3 linked regions of the Homo sapiens genome follow. The protein of the gene in region 1 interacts with the protein of each later gene in a biochemical or structural test. Each region holds a gene or a part of one and is shown on either strand. Other genes may lie near its edges.

Region 1 (7,024 bases):
GTTTCACCATGTTGGCCAGGCTTGTCTCAAACTCCTGGCCTCAAGTGATCTGCACATTTCAGCCTCCCAAAGTGTTGGGATTACAGGCATGAGCCACTGCGCCCAGTCTGTTTTTGGCTTTTTTGAGACAGGTTCTCATTCTGTCACCCAGGCTAGAGTGTAGAGGTGTGATCATGGCTCACTGCAGCCTCAGCCTCCTGGGCTCTTGTGATCCTCCTGCCTTAGCCTCCCAAAGTGTTGGGATTACGGGCATGAGCCACTGCACCCAGCCAAATCTGCTTCTCTTGAGCTTTGCCCATGTGTCAGGCATGTAGGACTTTATAGTCCTTATCTCTCATCATAAACTCTGGGTACAGGCTGTTGCTACTCCCATTTTACAGATGTACAGGAACATTCTCAGACTCTTTAAGCTAGGAAGAGGCAAAGTCTGAGGCTAGACCTGCTAACTTGGGGCCAGATGGCCTCATTCATGCTTCACCCCAGCTCCTCGGACAGGACCTGGCCCACAGTGGGGAACAGGGGAGGTTGGTCAGTCCTGGACAATCAGTGAAGACCTTTAGCAGATTTCACCAACCAAAAGTCATGCAGGAAAGTGTGCGCGCGCGCGTGTGTGTGGTATGTGTGTGTGTGTGTGGTGTGTGTGTGTGTGTCTTACTCTGTTGCCCAGGCTGGAGTGCAGTGGCACAATCTTGGCTCACTGCAACCTCTGCCTCCCAGGTTCAAGTGATTCTCCTGGCTCAGCCTCCCAGTGTGCCACCACACCCAGTGAGGGAAAGCTATTTTTACATGGCTCAAGCAGTGTAAATGACAATGATGTTTACTTACTTCCCCCCACCACCACCACCATTTAATTCTCCTCTTGAAAACTAAAAGCTGGCTGGGTATGGTGCATCACTCCTATAATCCCAGCACTCCAGCACTTTGGGAGGATCACTTGAACTCAGGAGTTTGAGGCCAGCCTGGACAACATAGTGAGACGCCATCACTATAAGAAATAAAAAAATAGCTGAGTGTGGTGGCATATGCCTGTAGTCCCAGCTACTTGGGAGGCTGAGGTGGGAGGATTGCTAGAGCCCGGGAAGTCAAGGCTGCAGTGAACCGTGATTGCACCTCTGCACTCCAGCCTGGGTGACTCCCCACAGATGAATATGCTGACAGTGGTTTCAGCTGCTCGGTGGTGATTCAGACCTGGACGCGTGGCTTCAGTAGCCCTGGGGCCACACTGCCTGCCCGCAGCCTCCTGTCTTGCTCTATGCTATTCCTTCCAAGTCCCTGCCATCTAGTCTTTAGTCCTCTCTGCCTGGGAGGCCTCTTCCACTCCTCAGCCTTATGTCATCTTATCCATCCTTTAAGGCCCTTGCTCCATGCCTCCCCTCCCAGGGCAGGGCTTGGATGTAGGAGAATGTGGAGAACTGGCGCACGCCAGCCTTGCTCCCCAGCAGAGGAGCTCTGTTTACTGGAGTGCGTACTTAGGCCACGGCTTGAAGATATGGGGCTGGGGTGTAGGGCTGTCAAGATTGTTCCTGGGGCCAGGTGCAGTAGTTCACTCCTGTAATCCCAACACTTTGGGAGGCCGAGGCCGGCAGTTCACCTGAGGTCAGGAGTTCAAGACCAGGCTGGCCAACATGGTGAAACCCCATCTCTACTAAAAATACAAAAAAAAAAAAATTAGTCGGGCAGGGTAGCGGGTACCTGTAATCCCAGCTACTTAGGAGGCTGAGGTGGGAGAATTGCATGAACCAGGGAGGCAGAGGTTGCAGTGAGCTGAGATCGCGCCACTGCACTCCAGCCTGGGCGACAGAGCGAGACTCCGTCTTAAAAAAAAAAAAAAAAAAAAAAAGATTGTTCTTGGGCTCTCTGTGAAGCTTGGATTTCTTTGGGTTGGGTGTGCCATGGCAAGTGCCATGGCAGACCTGGGTGAGGGAAAAGGGAGTACAATGGGAAGGGCTTCCCCAGCTCTGGAGATAGGTAGGGTTGGGGAGAGGCCAAAAGACTCTTTGCTGAGTCATCTCTCAGGCTCCTGGGGCCATCAGAGTGTCCAGGCCCCAAAGGTGGTTTTCGGGTGGTTCTAGGGGCAAGGGGCTAGGGCATGGTGCTGGCCCTGCCTGGTGATCACCTGTTGAGTGACCAGCTCAGGTCCCCAGGGTCCAGCCATTGAGCTGACTACTGTTTCTACCCTGGGAAGATTGAGCTGGCCAGGACTTGGCATCAAGGCAGTTATTTGGACTTCTAGTACTCACAGTGTATTCTGGTTGGGTTGTAACTTACCTCTGGTACAACTCTACTTGTATCTTCAGAAAAGATCAAGAGATATTTGCAAAAACATAATATGATAAAGGACTGTCTAAAGGACAAAGAACACTTAAAACTCTATAATAAGAAAACAACAATAAATAACACCGTGCATCTCTTAGAATGACCAAAATCCAGAACACTGCCAAATGCTGCTGAGGACGTAGAGCAACAGGAACTCTCGCTCTTTCCTGGTGGGAATGCAAAATGGTGCAGCCACCTTGGAAGACAAGTTAGGCGGTTTCTTTCATTTATTTATTCATAAAATCTTTTTAACAAAGAAATTGAGTCTCTCTCTTGCCCAAAATGGAGTGCAGAAGCGTGATCACAGCTCATTGCATTCTCAAACTCCTGGGCCTAAGAAGTCCACCCTTCTTAGCCTCTGAAGTAGCTGAGACTACAGGCACATGCCACCATGCCAGGCCAATATATTTATTTTGTTATTATTTTTTGAGATGGAATCTTGCTCTGTCACCCAGGCTGGAGTGTAGTGGCGCAACCTCAGTTCACTGCAATCTCTGCCTCCCGGGTTTAAGCAATTCTCCTACCTCAGCCTCCCAAGTAGCTGGACTACAGGCGTGCACCACTACGCTCTGCTAATTTTTTTGTATTTTTAGTAGAGACAGGGTTTTACCACGTTGGCCAGGCTGGTCTTGAACTCCTGACCTCAAGTGATCTACCCAGCTTAGCCTCCCAAAGTGCTGGGATTACAGGTGTGAGCCACTGAGCCTGGCCCAGGCTAATATATTTAATTTTTTTTTTTTTTTTTTTTTGTAGAGATGGGGTCTTGTTATGTTTCACAAACTGGTCTTGAACTCCCGGCCTCAAGTGATCCTCCCTCCCTGGCCTCCCACAGTGCTCAGATTACAGACATGAGTCACTGCTCCTGGCCCAGTTTGGCAGTTTTGTTTTGTTTTTTTTTTGAGACTCAGTCTCGCTCTTTCGTCCAGGCCAGACTGCAGTGGCGCAATCTCCACTCACTGCAAGCTCCGCTTCCCAGGTTCACACCATTCTCCTGCCTCAGCCTCCTGAGTAGCTGGGACTACAGGCGCCCACCACCACGTCCAGCTAATTTTTTTTTGTATTTTTAGTAGAGACGGGGTTTCACTGTGTTAGCCAGGATGGTCTCGATCTCCTGACCTCGTGATCCACCTGCCTTGGCCTCCCAAAGTGCTGGGATTACAGGCGTGAGCCACCGCGCCCGGCCGGCAGTTTCTTACAAAACTAAACATATGTCTTACCATTGGATCCAGCAATTACATTCCTTGGTATTTAGCCAAATGAATTGAAAACTTGTATCCACACAGATGCTTATAACAGCTTTATTCATTAATTGCTAAGGTTTGAAAGCAACCAAGATGTCCTTCAGTGGGTTAATGGATAAATAAATTGTGGTATATCTAGACAAATGACATTCAACACTAAGAAGAAATGAGTCTGGGTGCAGTGGCTCACACCTGTAATCCTAGTACTTTGGGAGGCCGAGACAGGCAGATCTCTTGAGCCCAGGAGTTTGAGACCAACCTGGACAACATAGCAAAACCCAGTCTCTATAAAAATACAAAAAAATTAGCTGGGGGTGGTGGTGCCTATCTGTAGTCTCAGCTACTTGGGAGGCTGAGGTGGGAGGATTGCTTGAGCCTGTGAAGTCAAGGTTGCAATGAGCCAAGATCACGCCACCATCCAGTGGGCAACAGAGCAAGACCCTGTCAAAAATAAATAAGTAAGTATGAAGTGGGGGAAAAACAAGTAACGGCTGGGCACAGTGGCTCACGCTTATAAACCCTGCATTTTGGGAGGCCGAGGCAGGCAGATCACTTGAGGTCAGGAGTTCAAGACCAGCCTGGCCAACATGGTGAAACCGCATGTCTACTAAAGATACAAAAATTAGCTGGGCATTGAGGCGGGTGCCTGTAATCCCAGCTACTTGGGAGGCTGAAGCAGGAGAATTGCTTGAACCCAGGAGGCGGAGGTTGCGGTGAGCCAAGATCGTGCCATTGCATTCTAGCCTGGGCAACAGACTCTGAAAAAATAATAATAATAAAAAGAACAAATAGCTTCTAACGACAAATTTATTTCTCACTTATTGAGGCTGGGAAGTCTGAAGATCAAGGTGCCAACAGATTCAGTGGCAACTGAGGGCCGGCTTCATGGTTTATAGATGGTGCCTTTTCACTGTGTCTTTATATGATGGAAAGGGCAAGGCAGTTCTCAGGGGCCTCTTTGATAAGGACACCAATCCCATCATGACCTAATCACTTCCCAATGGTCCCAACTCCTAATACCATCACATTGGTGATTAGGTTTCAACATAAGATTTTTGGGGAGATACATTCAGACATAGCAGCTACATATTGCATGATTCCAGCTATCATGTCTGATAACCACACAAAACCTATAGAATGTGCAACACCAAGTATGAGCCCTAACATAAACTAGGGAAGCTGAGTGGTAATGATGTGTTAAGGTAAAAGGTTCATTGGTGGTAACAAATTTGCCCCTCTGGTGAGGGATGCTGATAGTGGGAAAAGCTGTGTGTGTTCAGGGGCAGGGGGTATTTAGGAATTCTCTGTCCTTTCCTCTCAGTTTTGCTGTATACCTAAAGGTGTTCTAAAAAGTAAAGTCTATTTTTTAAAAAAGTATGAAGAGACCAGGACATCAATCTCAAGCCCCTTCTCAGTTTAGCAGATAGCTTGCTCTAGAAATACTTTTGGGTGGCTGGGTTGTCCTGAAGGTGGCAGGGCTTCAGTTGATACTTGAATCCCTTGAAATAAATTGATTTTTCAGATAAACAATTAAAACATTCCTGTCTTGGCCATAGGTTTATGAACCATGGTGTGTTCATTTTGATCTCTCTTTCCTTCCAGGACAACCCTCCATATGATAAGGGAGCCTTCAGAATCGAAATCAACTTTCCAGCAGAGTACCCATTCAAACCACCGAAGATCACATTTAAAACAAAGATCTATCACCCAAACATCGACGAAAAGGGGCAGGTCTGTCTGCCAGTAATTAGTGCCGAAAACTGGAAGCCAGCAACCAAAACCGACCAAGGTAAGACATGTGCCTGTGTCTTCCTCGGAGGGGGTCTTTGGGGGTGCTGCTCTGGGGTGGGGGCTTCTGGTACCAGATCAGACAGAATCCAGAGAATCTTTCAGGTACACGAAAAATGTAGCTGAGGTCCTGTCAGACCTTGTGGGAATGGCTCATCTCAGCTGAACTTTTGACCTGTATAGGGTTTGAGGAGGCCTTTCCAGTGCTCAGCCCTGGGCTGCCATCCACAGTGGGAACACACATGGACAGACAAGCCCAGTGGCTTGCTGCTGGTGCAGAGAGGTGCAGGCACTGGTCCCTGGAAGGGATGAAGGACTGTGGGGCTGCCTACAAGGGGAAGGGAGAGTGGGATTTAAGGTGGCCTCATGCAGTAGTTAGTGCCTGAACTCAGACTTGAAGGAGGAAAGGAGGTTGGAGAGGGCCTTCCAGGCTATAGGAAGGGCATGGGCTAGAGCCTAGTTGCTCGGGTGATGTGAGGGGAGGGACAGAGGCAGATGTAAGGGCAGTATTCCCAGATGAAGGCACGTAGTTGGCTTTAGTGGGCCTGGGATTCCCTGGAGTTGGATGTGGCTGTGCGTGGTGCACATGTCTGTGTGTGGCTGTGTGAACATAAACATGCTCATTCTTCTGGGAAGAATATTTGAGTCAGTATTGTGGTTGTCCTCCCTTTTGTCCCCTAGAAGTGACTAGTTTGTTATGGACTGTGTCTGGTTTTCATTTAATTCTAGACTTTCTTTTGAAGTCCTAATCTCATATTTTGATGGCTTCCTTTTAAGTACCTAAACCAGTATAAAGTCTGTTTAGATTAGAGTGGATGAAGCTGGCACTTGAGAGGCTGCAAGTGGAGGGTTTCTTTTAGGGGTGCTGCTCTAGGGTAGGGGCTCATGGGTCCTTCCTGATGCCAGATCAGACGGAGTCCAGAGAACTCCTACCTTACCAGGTGCACGCAAAGTATGGCTGAGGTGCCACCAGTCCCTGTGGGAATAACTCAGCTGAACTTTTGACCTGCACAGGGATTGAGGAGGTCCCTTGTTTTAGTGATTGAAAAAAGCCTTGGAAGGTGGAGTTCAAAGCCTTGCGCAAGAAAAATCAAGCCTCACTTGTTGGAAGTAATCACCATGAAAGGTGCCCATTAGACTCCCACACTGAGTAGAAGAAAGGAGTGGGTGCTAAACATTCAGTCAGGGCAGAACAGTCTCTAGTGGGCTTGGTCCTTGTTTGTGTACAAGCTGATGTTTATAAAAGCTTGACACAGTTCTTCTCAGTGCCTGGTTTTTTCTTTTCTTTTCTTTTCTTTTTTGGAAACGGAGTCTCGCTCTGTCACCAGGCTGGAGTGCAGTGGCGCGATCTCTGCTCACTGCAACCTCCGCCTCCCGAGTTCGCGCCATTCTCCTGCCTCAGCCTTCCGAGTAGCTGGGACTACAGGCACCCGCCACCACGCCCGGCTAATTTTTTGTATTTTTAGTAGAGACGGGGTTTCACCATGTTAGCCAGGATGGTCTCGATCTCCTGACCTCGTGATCCGCCCGCCTCGGCCTCCCAAAGTGCTGGGATTACAGGCGTAAGCCACCGCACCCAGCCGATTTTTTCTTTTCTTTTCTTTTTTTTTTTTTTTTTTTTTTTTTTTTGAGACGGAGTCACCCAGGCTGGAGTGCAGTGATGCCATCCCAGATCACTG
Region 2 (7,832 bases), on another chromosome or scaffold:
AGCGCACACGCAGCTGCTTTCCACAGAGTGGCATATTGTCCAGCTCCACTTTCGCAATCTCCGCTAGGGTTCGTGTTTCCAAGCGGATAAAGCCAAATCCTTAATCCTTATGAATGAAGACTTCGCCTGCCTTTCCATATTTCTCAAATAGTTTCCTCATTTCTTCCTCAGTGATGTCGGGAGGAAGATTTCCCACAAAAAGACGGCTTCGTTGGGTGAAGGTCTTCTCTCCTGGTTTTCTAAAATTCTTCAGGCCAAATAGTCAAAGCCTTCATTTTGGCTGCTGGCCTGTTGCCCATTTGCAGGTATTGGCGGTGGTGGCGGCTGCAGCTGTTGCTGCTGGTGGTGATGTTGATGATGCTTTCTTGGAGTATGGTTTTGCTTCTCCAAGTTAAAAGTTTTATTACTCTGCATTTTTGCACCCTCAACTTCGATTGAAGACAGCAAAGTGCCTCCCACTTCCCTCTAACCTGGACTTCTCCTCTACCGACTGGTCTCTCCTCGGAGTAACGGCGACGCTACACGGCCTCTCCCGTCCCGAGAAAAGCTTTTTTTTGTTTTGTTTTGTTTTGAGACGGAGTCTTGCTCTGTCGCCCAGTCTGGAGTGCAGTGGCGCGATCTCAACTCACTGCAAGCTCCCCCTCCCGGGTTCACGCCATTCCCCTGCCTCGGCCACCCAAGTAGCTGGGACTACAGGCGCCCGCCACCATGCCCGACTTTTTTTGTATTTTTAGTAGAGACAGGATTTCACCGTATTAGCCAGGATGGTCTCGATCTCCTGACCTCGTGGTCCACCCGCCTCGGCCTCCCAAAGTGCTGGGATTACAGGCGTGAGCCACCGCGCCCGGCCAAGATAGGTACTGTTTTACAGACAAGGGATAGCTAACTAAAGCCACTAGGTGTAGCTGACATGGTCAGTAAGTGGTGAAAATAACGTAACACCCAGACAAACTGATTCAGAGCCACTTTTTTCTCTCTTCTCTTCTTTTTTCTTTCCTTTCCTTTTCTCTCTCTCTCTTTCTTTCTTTCTTTCTTTTTTTTTTTTTTGAGACACGGTCTCTCTCTGTTGCCCAGGCTGGTGTGCAGTGGCATGATCATAGTTCACTGCAACCTTGAACTCCCAGGCTCAAGTGAGCCTCCTACCTCAGCCTCTCGAGTAGCTGGCACCACAGGCCCACACCACCATGCCCAGCTAGTTTTTTCATTTTTACTTTTGTAGAGATGAGAGTCTCATCATGTTGCCCAGGCTGGTCTGAAACTCCCAGGTTCAAGCAGTCCTTTAGCCTTGGCCTCCCAAAGTGCTGGGATTACAGGTGTGAGACACGGTGCTGTCCCTGAGCCACCTAATTATCCATTCTGTTATACTGACTGCTGCTTATGTGCCTTCACTTCATTTTGAGCAACGTGGGGCCAGAGTCTGTCTAATTTGTCTTAATAGTCTCACCCCACCTCCCTAAGCAACACACATAATTTGGTAGCAAATAATTCCTTGCTGAATTGAACAGAAGGTGTATTTAGTGACTTCTACGTTTCCTTGCAAATCTGAAATTTTATGATTATAAGATCCGGTGAATTTTGCTGAATGTCGACTTGGGTCTTCATGCAAACTTTCTTCATGAAGTCTTCACGCCAGCTGGATTCCTCAATTGTCATTTATCTGTCCTACCCCAAAAATCCTTCAGTGCTACTGAATATTGCCTTTCAGCAATTACCCAAATTCAGTCTTTCTCTTTTTTTGGGGTGGCGGGAAGGGGACTGAGTTTTGCTCTCGTCGCCCAGGCTGGAGCACAGTGGTGCGATCTCAGCTCACTGCCACCTCTGCCTCCCAGGTTCAACAATTCTCCTGCCTCAGCCTCCTGTGTAGCTGAGATTATGGGTGCCCGCCACCACGCCTGGCTAATTTTTGTATTTTTAGTACAGATGGGGTTTCACCATATTGGCCAGATGGTCTCGAACTCCTGATGTACGGTGATCCACCTGCCTTGGCCTCCCAAAGTGCTAGAATTACAGGCGTGAGCCATTGCACCTGGCTCAACCTTTCTCACCACTCAGTCTCTTCATTATCTAGAACGTGCCTGTGCTACCTGCCGTAACAGAGTATGGCTGGAGGCTATTTCTCATTTTCTAGTTTATCATATCAATTTTTTTTTTTTGAGACAGAGTCTCACCCTGTCATCCAGGCTGGAGTCCAGTGTGCAATCTTGGCTCACTGCAACCTCCGCCTCCCAGGTTCAAGCGATTCTCAAGCCTCAGGCTCCTGATTAGCTGGGACTACGGGTGTGTGCCACCATGCCCAGCTAATATTTGTATTTTTTGTAGAGATGGGTTTTCACCATGTTGCCCAGTCTGATCTCGAGCCCCTGACAGTCTGATCTGCCCGCCTTGGCCTCCCAAAGTACTGGGATTACAGGTGCCAGCCACCGCACCCTGTCAGATTTTATTCTTTTAATGTGCAGTGTGTGCTCTTTGCTTGTCCCTTCTCCCCTTTGGTGAACACTTACTCAGATGCCACTAAATCTTTTCTGCAGGGTTGTTAAAAAAAAGCAACAAAAGATAAAAAATGAAATATGAAAGAAGAAAACAAACCGAAACCAACAAATGCTAGTAAGTCAAGGAAATAGTCTCTAATTTATCTAGAACAGAATTAGTAAAACTGCCATCAATGGAACTGGAGAAGTTTTAGTTATAGTAGTTTTATAAATGAGACTAATATAGGGTTTAATGTACAAAGACAGGACTGTATCTCCTTGAAAGTTAATCTCTTGGATTTGGAGTGGTACTACAAAAAGTAGAGACTAAGTGTTCAACCTATTTATTTATTTAGATACAGAGTCTCACTCTGTCGCCCAGGCTGGAGTGCAGAGGCGTTATCATGGCTCACTGCCACCTCCGCCTCCCGGGTTCAAGCAATTCTCCTGCCTCAGGTTCTGGAGTACCTGGGATTACCCGCACCCGGACCATGCCCGGCGAATCTTTTTTTTTTTTTTTTTTGTAGTTTTAGTAGAGATGGGGTTTCACCAGGTTGGCCAAGTGGGTTTCGAACTCCCGACCTCAGGTAATCCACCTGCCTCTGCCTCCCAAAGTGCTGGGATTACAGGCGTGAGCCTCCACGCCCCACCAGCCAATTTAATTTGTATGCATGATAGAATCCATCCCAATTCGAAGACCCAAAAATAACAGATTAGTACAAGTCTTTGAGGCTAATTACGTCATTAGTATTAATTTTAATCAATGGTGATTAAACTGAGCCTTCATTCAACTTGTCCAGAACATCAGTCAAGAATGTCTATTTAAAATGTTCTTGGAGGCCGGGCGCATTGGCTCACGCCTATAATCTGAGCACTTTGGGAGGCCAAGGCAGGTGGATCATCTGAGGTTAGGAGTTTGAGACCAGCCTGGCCAACATGGTGAAACCCCATCTCTATTAAAAATACAAAAATTAGCCAGGCATGGTGGTGGGTGCCTGTAGTCCCAGCTACTCAGGAGGCTGAGGAAGGAGAATTGCTTGAACCTGGGAGGCAGAGGTTGCAGTGAGCCAAGATTGAGCCACTGCACTCCTGCCTGGGCTACAAGAGTGAAACTCTGTCTCAAGCAAGCAAATAAATAAATAAATAAATAAATAAATAAAGTTATTGGGCAGGCACAGTGGCATTCGCCTGTAGTCTCAGCTACTTGGGAGGCTGAAGCAAGAGGACTGCTTGAAGCTGGGAGTTCGAGCCCAGCCAAAGCAACCTATCCAGACCCATCTCTTAAAAAAAATATTTCTCTGCCAGGTGCGGTGGTTCATGCCTGTAATCCCAGCACTTTGGGAGGCCAAGGTGGGCGGATCATTTGAAGTCAGGTGTTCGAGACCAGACTGGTCAACATGGAGGAACCCTGTCTCTACTAAAAATGCAAAAATTAGCCAGGCGTGGTGGTGCACGCCTGTAATCCCAGCTACTCGGGAGGCTGAGGCAGGAGAATTGCATGAACCGGCGAGACGGAGGTTGCAGTCAGCTGAGACTGCACCACTGCACTCCAGCCTGGGCGACAGAGCGAGGCTCCATCTCAAAAAAAAAAAAAAAAATATCATCTATCTATCCACCTACCTACCTACCTACCTACCTGGATTATAATTCATTAAGTTCTCTGTGCCCTGTAGTTGTAGATTAAGGGAATGCGATTGGATTAGTGTGGAGGGGCTTTTTATGGAGCCAAGCAGGAGTTTTTAAGCTTTTGTACTTTTGCTTCATGTCACAAGGACAGATGCCCCACAAAGGCTGAGATGTTTGTGGTCCTGGATCTTAGAACAGTGCCTGGCACATAATAGGCATAAGGTTGCCAGGAAATAGAAATACAGATACTCAATTCAATTTGATCTTCAGATAATCAAAAAATACTTTTTTTAGTATAAATATGTCCCATTCTGTATTTGGGACATACATATTACACTGTTGTTTATCTGAAATTCAAATTTAAGTGGGTGTCCTGTACTTTATCTGGCAACCCTACTAAAGGAGCTCAATTAAGTATTTGCTGACTTAACAGTCTGAAGGTCTCGTTTCACCTGTAAAATGGGGCTAGTACCTGTCCCTGCCTCTATAAGGTTGATGGGCAGAGTAGGTGGCATTCAGTGAGCCCTCAATTTATTTGATTGCCTGGGACCATCCGGTGAGCAGAAACCCTTCCACTTTCAACTACAGAGACGATAAAAAGGCCTCCTCGAGGCCAGAGGTGCCCAGGCCAGGCCTAGGTGGCCCGCACCTGCGAGCCTGGCCAGCCTCTTCCGGGTCAGGTGACCGCGCGCGGTCACGTGACCCGGCCCGAGTGCGGGCGGTGGAAGGCGGAAGTAGGAGAGGAGTTCGGCGCCGCTTCTGTGGCCACGGCAGGTAGCGAGCGCTGGCGCGGGGGGCGCGGTGGGCTGGCTGCCTGCACGGGGCGGGCCGGGGGCGGCGGGCGGCGCGGGGTGGGCCGGGGGCGGCGCGGCCCGGGCGTCGGGGGGCGGCGGCTTCCTGTGGGAGGGGCCTGGCGCGGCGGTTCCGGCCTCCGAGGAGGGGTGTCCCGGCTCCCGCCCGAGTGGGGTGGGCGCGCCGCGGCCCGCGCGGGGGTTGCTCCGAAATGGGTGCCCCGGCCGCCAAGGGTGCAGCTGGAGCGAGTCCTCCCGGAAGGGGAGAGGAGCTTAGGTTCCCAGGCATGGAGAGGAGCGATCTTTGTGGAGGGATCGGGACCAGGGGAAGGGGCGACTTGGAACTGAGCTGGAAGGGGGTGCCTGAAAATGGGTTTATGGCGTGGAGCCAGAGGGAAAAAGATGCTGCCTGGACCCCCTCTGAGAGTCTCTCCCTTCCTTCCTGTTTGGAAATGATTGTTACCCGAGACTTTGATGACGGTCCCATTCAGTTTTTAAACTTCAGGAGGGATCACAGAATCTTGATCGTCTTGCTTCCCTCGCGCCCACTTAGTCCTGCGTGGGTAGGGTTTCCACTTCTTGGGAGCCTAGCCCTTCAGCTCATTTTTCTTTGAGATTTTCCCTGAACGGGCCATCATCGAGGCTTTAAAAAACAAAAAAAGAAAATAAATTAAAAAAATAAGTGTGGGCACTTTGCCTGTAAAATGGCTTTTAGCTTACACTGTTGACCTAGCCCAGCGTTACCTCAGCAACATAGTGACTGCTGAAATCTTGGACAGAGAAGTGTCTACCTAGACTGCTTTATGACTTTTCTCTTTCTTCCGTTTAAATTATTCAGTTTCCCTTAGCTTATCTTGTGACTGCTTATCTTGACGAACTGTAACTAGGTAGGGTGCCTGAGAGGTCTGTGTTATGTTCCTTAGAACTGTGACCTGGATCATGATTTTGAGATTGAATACTTGTGTTAAAGCCTGTTCATCTTCCTGTTTCTCATGTTTACTAAAATTTGCAGAAGCAAAAGGAGTTTCATGAGTGCAGTGTAACTGGAACGAATGTTCAAACTGGACATTCACAGCAGCCAGCATCGTTTTGGGTTACAAGTAGGAAAAAGTACTTTCCTAATGTATTATGAGTTCAAGTTTTTGGAGTTATTTGACAAACATTTAAAAATTAGTTTTTGCAGCAGCGCCTATGAGTGAGGTTGGGAAGATGTATTCTCATTTCACAGGGAACAAACAGACTTACGAGAGACGACTTGATTTTTTAAAACAATTTATTGCTCTTTCTTGTTTGCTGGCCTCTTCCTGCTAGATTGCAAATCCTTCAAGGGCAGGTTTCATATTTTATTTGGCTGCTAGCCTAGTGCCTGGCATGTTGTGAGCACTTGATAAATATTTGGTGAATAAATGCATTTCTAAAAGTCACACCGGCGTAAGTGGTGACAAAGGATTTGAACCCAAGTCTTCTACTCTTTTTCTTGTCAGAGAAGCTTGTGATTATCTGTGTCATTGGTCCATATGAAAACAGGCTCGAGAGAAAGGCTTGGATTGGCTTCTCAGTCTCTTTCACTTCATGATTACTTTCCCATTTACAAAGAGCGTATACCAACATCTCACTTAACCTTCCCTTTGAAATTGGGATGGTCAGTATTGTCCCTATATCACATGAAGAGACTGAGGCTTAATGAAGTCCTTACTTTAGATTTCAGAGCTAGTAAATGAGTAGGGACTCAAGCCCAGACCCTTAATCCTTAGATCCATTCTTTTTCATTTATTGACACAATAGAAAATTTTATTTTTATTTTATTTTGAGACAGGATCTTACTCTGTTGCCCAGGCTGGAGTGCAGTGGCACAATCACGGCTCACTGTAACCTTGACCTGCCTGGGCTCGGGTGATCCTCCCATGTCTGCCTCCCAAACAGCTGGGACTACAGGTGGGTGCCACCTCGCCTGGCTAATTTTTGTAGAGACAGGGGTTTTGCTATGTTGCCCGGGCTGTTTTCAAACTCCGGGGCTCAAGCGATCCTCCCACCTCGGCCTCTCAAAGTGTTGCAATTACAGGTGTAAGTCACCATGCCCAACTGAAAGTTTTATTTTTACATAATTTTTCAGGAATAAAAAGTGTAACATTTTAAGGAAAAAGATCACACAGAAAAAGTTGTGAATGTAGAATGTGAGTAAATGAAGTTTAGAAAACGCTGTACTCTACCATAGCTTCCTCTTCCTGGGAAAACATTCTTTCATTCAGTGAATATTTATAAGTACCCACTCTGTCTTTGCCAGGCATTGTTGTAGAGTCCAGTATGGTGTACACTAGCCACATGGGGCTGCTGAGCACTGGAGCTATGCTGTGAGCATAAAATACATTCTGGATTTTGAAGACTTAGCATGAAGAAAAGTAAAATGTCTCATTGATACTTTTTATGTTATAGTAAACGATCATATAATGTATAAACATGTATGATAACATTTTGGATTTATTGGGTTAAATACAACGTAATTATAAATAGTTGGTCAGACATGGTGGCTCATGCCTATAATTCCAGCACTTTGGGAGGTCAAGGTGGATAGATTGCTTGAGCCCAGGAATTTGGGACCAGCCTGGGCAACATGGTGAAACCCTGTCTCTACAAAAAATACAAAAATTAGCCAGGTGCAGTGGCGCCCGCCTGGCTACTCAGGAGGCTGAGGTGGGAGGATCACCCAAGCCTGGGGAGGTGGAGGCTGCAGTGAGTTGTGATCGTGCCACTCATTGCACTCTAGCCTAGGTGACAGAGTGAGACCCTGTCTCAAAAAAAAGAAAAAGAAAAAGAAAAAAAGTTTCACCTTTTTGTCTTTTTTTTTCCCACTTAACCTTGACTTGAAACCCAGCACTTTTTTCTTTTTAAAATGTATTTCCTAGAAAAATAAAAAATTATAAATGTGGCTTGCACTTGTGGCTCCCAT
Region 3 (7,024 bases), on another chromosome or scaffold:
CATGGAAGTGAACGACTTCCCTACAGGAATGTGCAACAGAATTAAAAGTAAGGTGACCAGAAAACAAAGGCAGAGCATCACCACGTACGGTCTCTAGCATGCGGCACTCACTACAATCAGAGAAGCCCGCAGAAAAGGCTCTTGGGAAGGGAACAAAAGAAAGGAGGGAGAAGAAGGTATCACAATGTGAGAGTCACAGATAAGAAGTGAAAAAGAGAATCTCTAAGCACATGGTTTACAAAATATCTCCACAGACCCCACGCTGACAGCCCCGCCCCCACCCGCTGCCCAGCTTGCCTGCACCTCAGGCTGTTACCTTGCAATGCTTTGAAGCCCTGCAGAGGCACTCGAGAGGATCCTGTCACAAACTGAAGCAATCTTGCTCGTCGCTCTTCATCAAAAAACTCCACAGCTTTCCAGAACCATTTGACAATGTTGCTGTCTGGTGTACAGTGTTTTAACCGGGTGTTTACCTTCCAGTCATTAACATCTATCTTTCCAAGTCCACAAATAATGAGCTGTGAAAATAGTACACAGTAATGAACCTGTGGAAACCACAGCCAGACCAAAAATTCCTCAAAAGAGAACTTTAGGTTTGTACTGCTGGCTGTCATTTGGTGGTTCCTAATTAAAGATGCACATCAGAATCATCTGAAAAGCTTTTCAAATTGACATTCCAGGTCCTAGGCTCAGAGATGTTAATTCTGTGCACCTGGGGTGACAGTTGGGATCTATATTTTAAAAAGCTCCAGAGATATCTACTCACTGCAAACTCCCTCTCCAGGGTCTGAGAACCACAGCTGTGATAGACTTGACCAGGTAAACAATTGAGAATGTTTCATAAGTTCATAATAAAATTATAAAGCTTTAAAAAAAATGGACAGAAATTGAGACCCAAAGAGTAAATACAGATATGTGCCTTCTTTGGACCTGCATCATCTACTAGTTTCAATACCTATTAGCTTTGTTGATTGAGGGCAATTCAATCAATTCCTCTGCTGTAATATGGTAGTAACATCCATTTCACTACATCCTGGGGAAGCAACCGATAATGCACAGAAACTTCAGAAATGGGTGTTGAATAAGTGAGTCATACAATTTGCTTAATAATTTTTTTTTTTTAAGACAGAATTTTGCTCTGTCTCCTAGGCTGGAGTGCAGTGGCATGATCTAGGCTCACTGCAACCTCTGCCTCCCGGGTTCAAGTGATTCTCCTGCCTTAGCCTCCCAAGTAGCTGGGATTACAGGCATGCACCACAATGCCCAGCTAATTTTTGTATTTTTAGTAGAGATGAGATTCCGCCATGTTGGCCAGGCTGGTCTCCAACTCCTGGCCTCAAGTGATCCGCCTGCCTCAGCCTCCCAAAGTGCTAGGATTATAGGTGTGAGCCACTACACCTGGCCTACATTTGCTTAATAATATTAAATTGATATTAAAGCACAAAATACATGAGCACATTGATACAGACCTCTGCTAAACACATCCTGATGGAGGGTCACACAGATGAACTATATCCAAATCATTTTATACTATCATTAATATGTCTCCCTAGGGTTCAAGACTAACTCACCATACTAATCTAACATGTTTGTTTATAGCAGTGAATTCCATGTATACTATAAAACATAACTTGCAAATCCTGTATTTTATAGAATTACACCCAGGATTAATATATACAATGCTAAAATAAATGTTATACATATTGTCTTTAAAAATTGGTAGGGTGTGGTAGCTCACGCCTGTAATCCTAGCACTTTGGGAGGACGAGGCATGCAGATCACTTGAGGTCAGGAGTTCAAGACCAGCCTGGCCAACATGGCGAAACCCTGTATCTACTAAAAATACAAAAAGGTAGCCGGGCGTGGTGGCGGGCACCTGTAATCCCAGGTAAGGCATGAGAATCGCTTGAACCCAGGAAGTAGAGGTTGTAGGGAGCTGAGATCCCATCAGCCTGGGGGACAAGTGAGACTGTGTCTCCAAAAAAAAAAAAAAAAAAAAAAAAAGCCAAAATAATGTTAGCCAGGCGTGGTGGTGCACACCTGTAGTACCAGTTACTGGGGAGACTGAGGTAGGAGGATCACTTCAGCATAAGAGTTAACAGTGAGCTAGGATCATGGTACTGCACTCCAGCCTAGGCAACAGAGTGAGACTCTATCTCAAAAAATAAAAATAAAAAGTTTAATGATTCAGGCCTGGTGCAGTGGCTCACGCCTGTAATCCTAACAATTTGGGAAGCAGAGGCAGGTGGATTGCCTGAGCTAAAAAGTTCAAGACCGGCCTGGGCAACATGGTGAAACCCCATCTCTACTAAAAATACAAAAATTAGCCAGGCATGGTGGTGCACACCTGAAGTCCCAGTTACTCAGGAGGCTGAGGCACGAGAATCGCTTGAAAACCTGGGAGGCAGAGGTTGCGGTAAGTGGAGATTGTGCCACTGTACTCCAGCCTGGGTGACAGAGTGAGATTCTGTCTCCACAAATAAAAAAAAGAAAAAAGAGAAGAAAAACAAAGTTTCATGACCCATTAGCAGTAGAAACTATATTAAAAATCCTAACCCTACCAAATAAAGTCTCCAGTAAGGCTTCTATGGGGTTCTGAAATAAAATCTCCAACAAAGCTTCTACAGGGTTCACTGAATTAACACCACACTGAACAGGGAGGAGGTTATCCGAAAAGGATTATGGGTGTATTTAATGACATAAAAGACACCTCCTAAATTCTTTTCTTCAGAGGAATGGCAGTTAGAAGGCCAAATCCTCGTTTATTGTATAAAGAGATGAAAATGCATTATATTTCAACCTTATCGGCATTCCTGCTATGTTCTCCTTCTAACTACTTCCTTCTGGCTATTTCACTATGAACAATTCAATCACAAAAGGAATGGGGAGAGTATTAAGTAAAACCAACCTTTTTAGATTTGTTTGCTAACAGGTCTATTAACAGATTTATTTAGAAAGGACATTGAAGGCATTGAATAAAATCATGTTTCAAATTATTAGTAGACTTCAAATATTTGTGTTATCCCTAACTACTAAATAAATTTGGGACCTTTAATAGAATTAAACCTCGTGTTTTTTAGTTGTTCAGTAGGAAATTCAGATGCATTTGTTTAAGGTCTTAATTACAAAACCTGGGGTGTTTAAGGGCCAGCTTTAAAAGGAAACAAAAAACTATTCACTGTTTAGTATGGCCGTTAATCTAAAGACATTTAGAGGCCAGGTGCGGTGGCTCACACCTGTAATCCCAGCACTGTGGAAGGCCGAGGTGGGTGGATTATTTGAGGTCAGGAGTCCCAGGCCAGCCTGGCCAACATGGTGAAACCCCGTTTCTACTAAAAATACAAAAATTAGCTGGACGTGGTGGCAGGTGCCTGTAGTCCCAGCTACTTGGGAGGCTGAGGCAGGAGAATCACTTGAATCCAGGAGGTGGAGGTTGCAGTGCCACTGCCCTCCAGCCTGGGCAACTCTGTCTCCAAAAAAAAAAAAAAAAAAAAGAGAGAGACATTTAGATTCAATTTATCCTAGGTGTTTTAGTTATTTTCTCGATGATCTTGTCTATCAAATGCTTTCTTGCAAGCTTAGTGTAAAACTAATTCAGAGTAGGCTCTTACCCAAATAAATTTCAAAATGGTAGATTAATGAGGTTTTACTTAACTAAATCAGTAACCACTAAGTTAGGGAATAGACATATATTGGAAGAATGTACATATAAGTCACGAAATCTGTTTAAAACAAGAAAGTACAGGATAGAAAAATAAATTAAAAATTTTCACAATATAAGAGAGACTGCTCACAGCTGGGCATGGTGGCTCAAGCCTATAATCCTAGCACTTTGGGAGGCCAAGGCAGGCGGATCACTTGAGCTCAGGAGTTTGAGACCACCCTGGGAAACATGGCAAAACCCTGTCTCTACCAAAAAAAACAAAAAAATTAGCCAGGGGTGCTGGTGCATGCTTGTAGTCTCAGCTACTTGAGGGGCTGAAGGATCATTTGAGCCCAGGAGGTCAAGGCTGCAGTGAGCCATGATTGCACCACTGCACCCCAGCCTGGGTGACAGAGTGAGACCCTGTCTCAGAAAAAAAAAAAGAGAGAGAGAGACAGATTGTTCACTCACAGAAATTCCAAAGCATGAAAGGCCTTCAAAAGCATGAAAGACTTTTCCTGTGAATAAGAATTCTCAAGCATAGAACCATGAAACTTAGAAAGCACCAGAAATATGCTTTCCTCTAAAACTAAGTAACAAAATAATTCCCAATCCTTCCTTGTTACACTAGTGATGTTATAATACTAATGCACTAACCTCTAACTCCTTCTCATCAAATGTCTTCAGCAGATGTTGTGGAATTACTTCATTAAATCCTTTCTGCAGAGCCAAGAATTGAGCCTCAATGCCTCGTAAAAATCTCCAGTTCACATAGAGCCTGTAAACATTCGGCAGGATTTCGTATAATCACATGTATTTTCAGATCTGGTAATTATTATTATAAATCTCTACTTTAGCAACACCGCATCTTACAAGCATCTAACATTAACGGTTTAGCCTCAAGTCTAACAATAAATCTCAGACTAATGGGGATAAATGAACCCTGAGGTGTGACACAGTTCAATGTTGATGAAAAGTGGTAAACTACTAACAAAAGCAGCATCAGCAGAGCAACCCTTCAAATCAGAGAAGCTCCCAGGAAACAGGACGTCTACTAGAGCTGAGTCTTGATGAAATTTCTTTCTAAACTTACAGCATACATGCCAATAACTAGAATAAAGAGCTCTTTCACTCAAAAATGACTTATTTTTCTGATTTTACTTGCAAATGTAATTTGAATGTGTTGGGTGTTTTGTTTCTATTTGAGGGAGGCCTACGGGAGAAGAGGAGGTAGAGAATCCTCATACCAAAAATGAGAAGAATAAATAGTAAAAGCCAATAGCAAGCACTTTTTGATTAAATAATCATTGTTCTCTAGAGGATATAAAAATTCTGGAAGATGTAATTTTACCAATAAAAAAATGCACTAAACTACATCTATTGTGTGAATGTACGATTTATAAGTGAATTGTTTTTATTTATCTACCCAAGAAAACTTCTCCATCTCATGCATCACAGAACTTACTCATCTGTCAAATTTGTTAACATTTCCAAATTTGGAGAAATGGTTCTCTACTTTAAGAAATAAGTTACTTAACATTATATCCTTTGGAGGACCGTATTTTTGTTTGTTGGGTTAAGGGGACAGCAAAACTGTGTAACTGTAAAAGTTTTTCTTTGAATTTTTAATCTAATAACTGTAGTTGGCAAGGGATTATTACGTGCTGTAAACACGACTGAACCCTGAAGAGTGGGATCCAGGGACTGAGTAGGACACACGAGGTCTTGAAAAGGAGACACTGCTAAGACTTAGGAAATTCTCATTTGTTCTTTTTTTATTATTTTTAATTTATATTAGGTGGAGTCTCGTTCTGTCACCCAGGCTGGAATACAGTGGTGCGATCTCAGCTCACTGCAACCTCCACCTCCCAGGTTCAAGCGGTTCTCCTGCCTCGGGCTCCAAAGTAGCTGGGATTACAGGTGCCTGCCAACACGCTTAGCTAATTTTTGTATTTTTAGTAGAGACAAGGTTTCACAATGTTGGCTAGGCTGGTCTTGAGCTCCTGACCTCAGGTGATCCACCCACCTTGGCCTCCCAAAATGCTGGGAATACAGGCATGAGCCACTGCACCCAGCCTGTTCTTTCATTTTTTTTAAGTAGAAACGTAATACATACTTTTTACGTATATAACAAAAAAATCAAACATTAACTATGGAGACAGTAAAATATGAAAGTCCATTCTTTTACCCTCTTTCTCCTTCCTATTTCCAGTCGCATCATCTCCACTCCCTCATCCTAGGCAAAAACTTTATTTGGTTGCAGCCTCCTGAACATCTTCAGTATAATCATAAAAAAACAGCCAGGCACGGTGGCTTACACCTGTAATCCCAGCACTTTGGGAGGCTGAGGCAAGCAGATCACGAGGTCAGGAGTTTGAGACCAGCCTGGCCAATATGGTGAAACCCCATCTCTGCTAATAATAAAAAAAAGTTGCCAGGTGTGGTTGTGCGTACCTGTACTCCCAGCTACTCGGGAGGCTGAGGCAGGAGAATCACTTGAACCTGGGAGGCAGAGGTGCAGTGAGCCAAGATCTTGCCACTGCACTCCAGCCTGAGCAACAGAGCGAGACTCCACCTCAAAAAAACCCAAAAAAACAAAACAAAAAACAAAAAAAAAACCATGGATTTTGTTCCTACATAATTCTTCTAAGACTTACTTTTAAAATTTGACAGCTTATGCACTTTTAAATATCCACATAATATTCTGCTGAATGTATAATATAATCATTCTTCTCTAAAACCATTTTAGTAGTGTAACTTTTTTTCACAAGTAGCATTTAATTGACCGTCTTTCCCCGTATTCGTTCAGTTACATGTGTGTTTCTGCAGAAGAGCCCTAAACACAGAGCTGCTAGTTGAAGGGCACATGCTGCTGGTATCAAACTGCTTTCCAGAAAAGCTATGCCAGTGTTCACTCCAATCAAGTGGACCTCATATTTAAACTAGGAAACATTTTAGTAAGATTTGGGAACATAATCTATACACAGAAAGTATATCATGCAAGTTTCTGTGTACATAAAGTTCAAGTTCAAACTCCCAAAACTGATTACCATAGTTCTATATTTAGAGGACTTTTTATTTCTCATAAGCCAAATTAGCCCAATACATAAAAATTCCTCAATTTTTACTTTATGAAATCTGAAAAACATTTATTTACATTTATCCCTAAACTCACAATGTGCTCATTTATAAACAGGCTAAGTGTTAGTAAGATAAAGCACAAAAGCCCTTCTGAATTGCCACCTGTGATAGCTACACCACATGTGGCCCCAGTGCCCACATCTCCTGGTATTCACACATTTGTACAGCTCCTCCTCCATGATGAAACTGGGCTGGCTGTCTCAGTTTAACCAGAAGTAGACAGCAGAAGTCATGTTGGCC

The links. The genes of interacting proteins can lie anywhere in the genome.
Region 2: the proteins of UBE2L3 (region 1) and WWP2 form a complex in vitro, tested with the Homo sapiens proteins (11 studies listed by BioGRID, with this or other methods).
Region 3: the proteins of UBE2L3 (region 1) and SMURF2 form a complex in vitro, tested with the Homo sapiens proteins (11 studies listed by BioGRID, with this or other methods).

Annotation. Positions count from the first base shown.
Region 1 is NC_000022.11:21,605,698-21,612,721, forward strand, and holds part of UBE2L3 (ubiquitin-conjugating enzyme E2 L3), read left to right. Parts: intron 1-5,159; coding exon 5,160-5,346; intron 5,347-7,024. UniProt on the Homo sapiens protein: Ubiquitin-conjugating enzyme E2 that specifically acts with HECT-type and RBR family E3 ubiquitin-protein ligases.
Region 2 is NC_000016.10:69,757,524-69,765,355, forward strand, and holds the start of WWP2 (NEDD4-like E3 ubiquitin-protein ligase WWP2), read left to right. Parts: upstream 1-4,808; 5' UTR 4,809-4,868; intron 4,869-7,832. UniProt on the Homo sapiens protein: E3 ubiquitin-protein ligase which accepts ubiquitin from an E2 ubiquitin-conjugating enzyme in the form of a thioester and then directly transfers the ubiquitin to targeted substrates.
Region 3 is NC_000017.11:64,547,284-64,554,307, forward strand, and holds part of SMURF2 (E3 ubiquitin-protein ligase SMURF2), read right to left. Parts: intron 4,422-7,024; coding exon 4,301-4,421; intron 519-4,300; coding exon 317-518; intron 1-316. UniProt on the Homo sapiens protein: E3 ubiquitin-protein ligase which accepts ubiquitin from an E2 ubiquitin-conjugating enzyme in the form of a thioester and then directly transfers the ubiquitin to targeted substrates.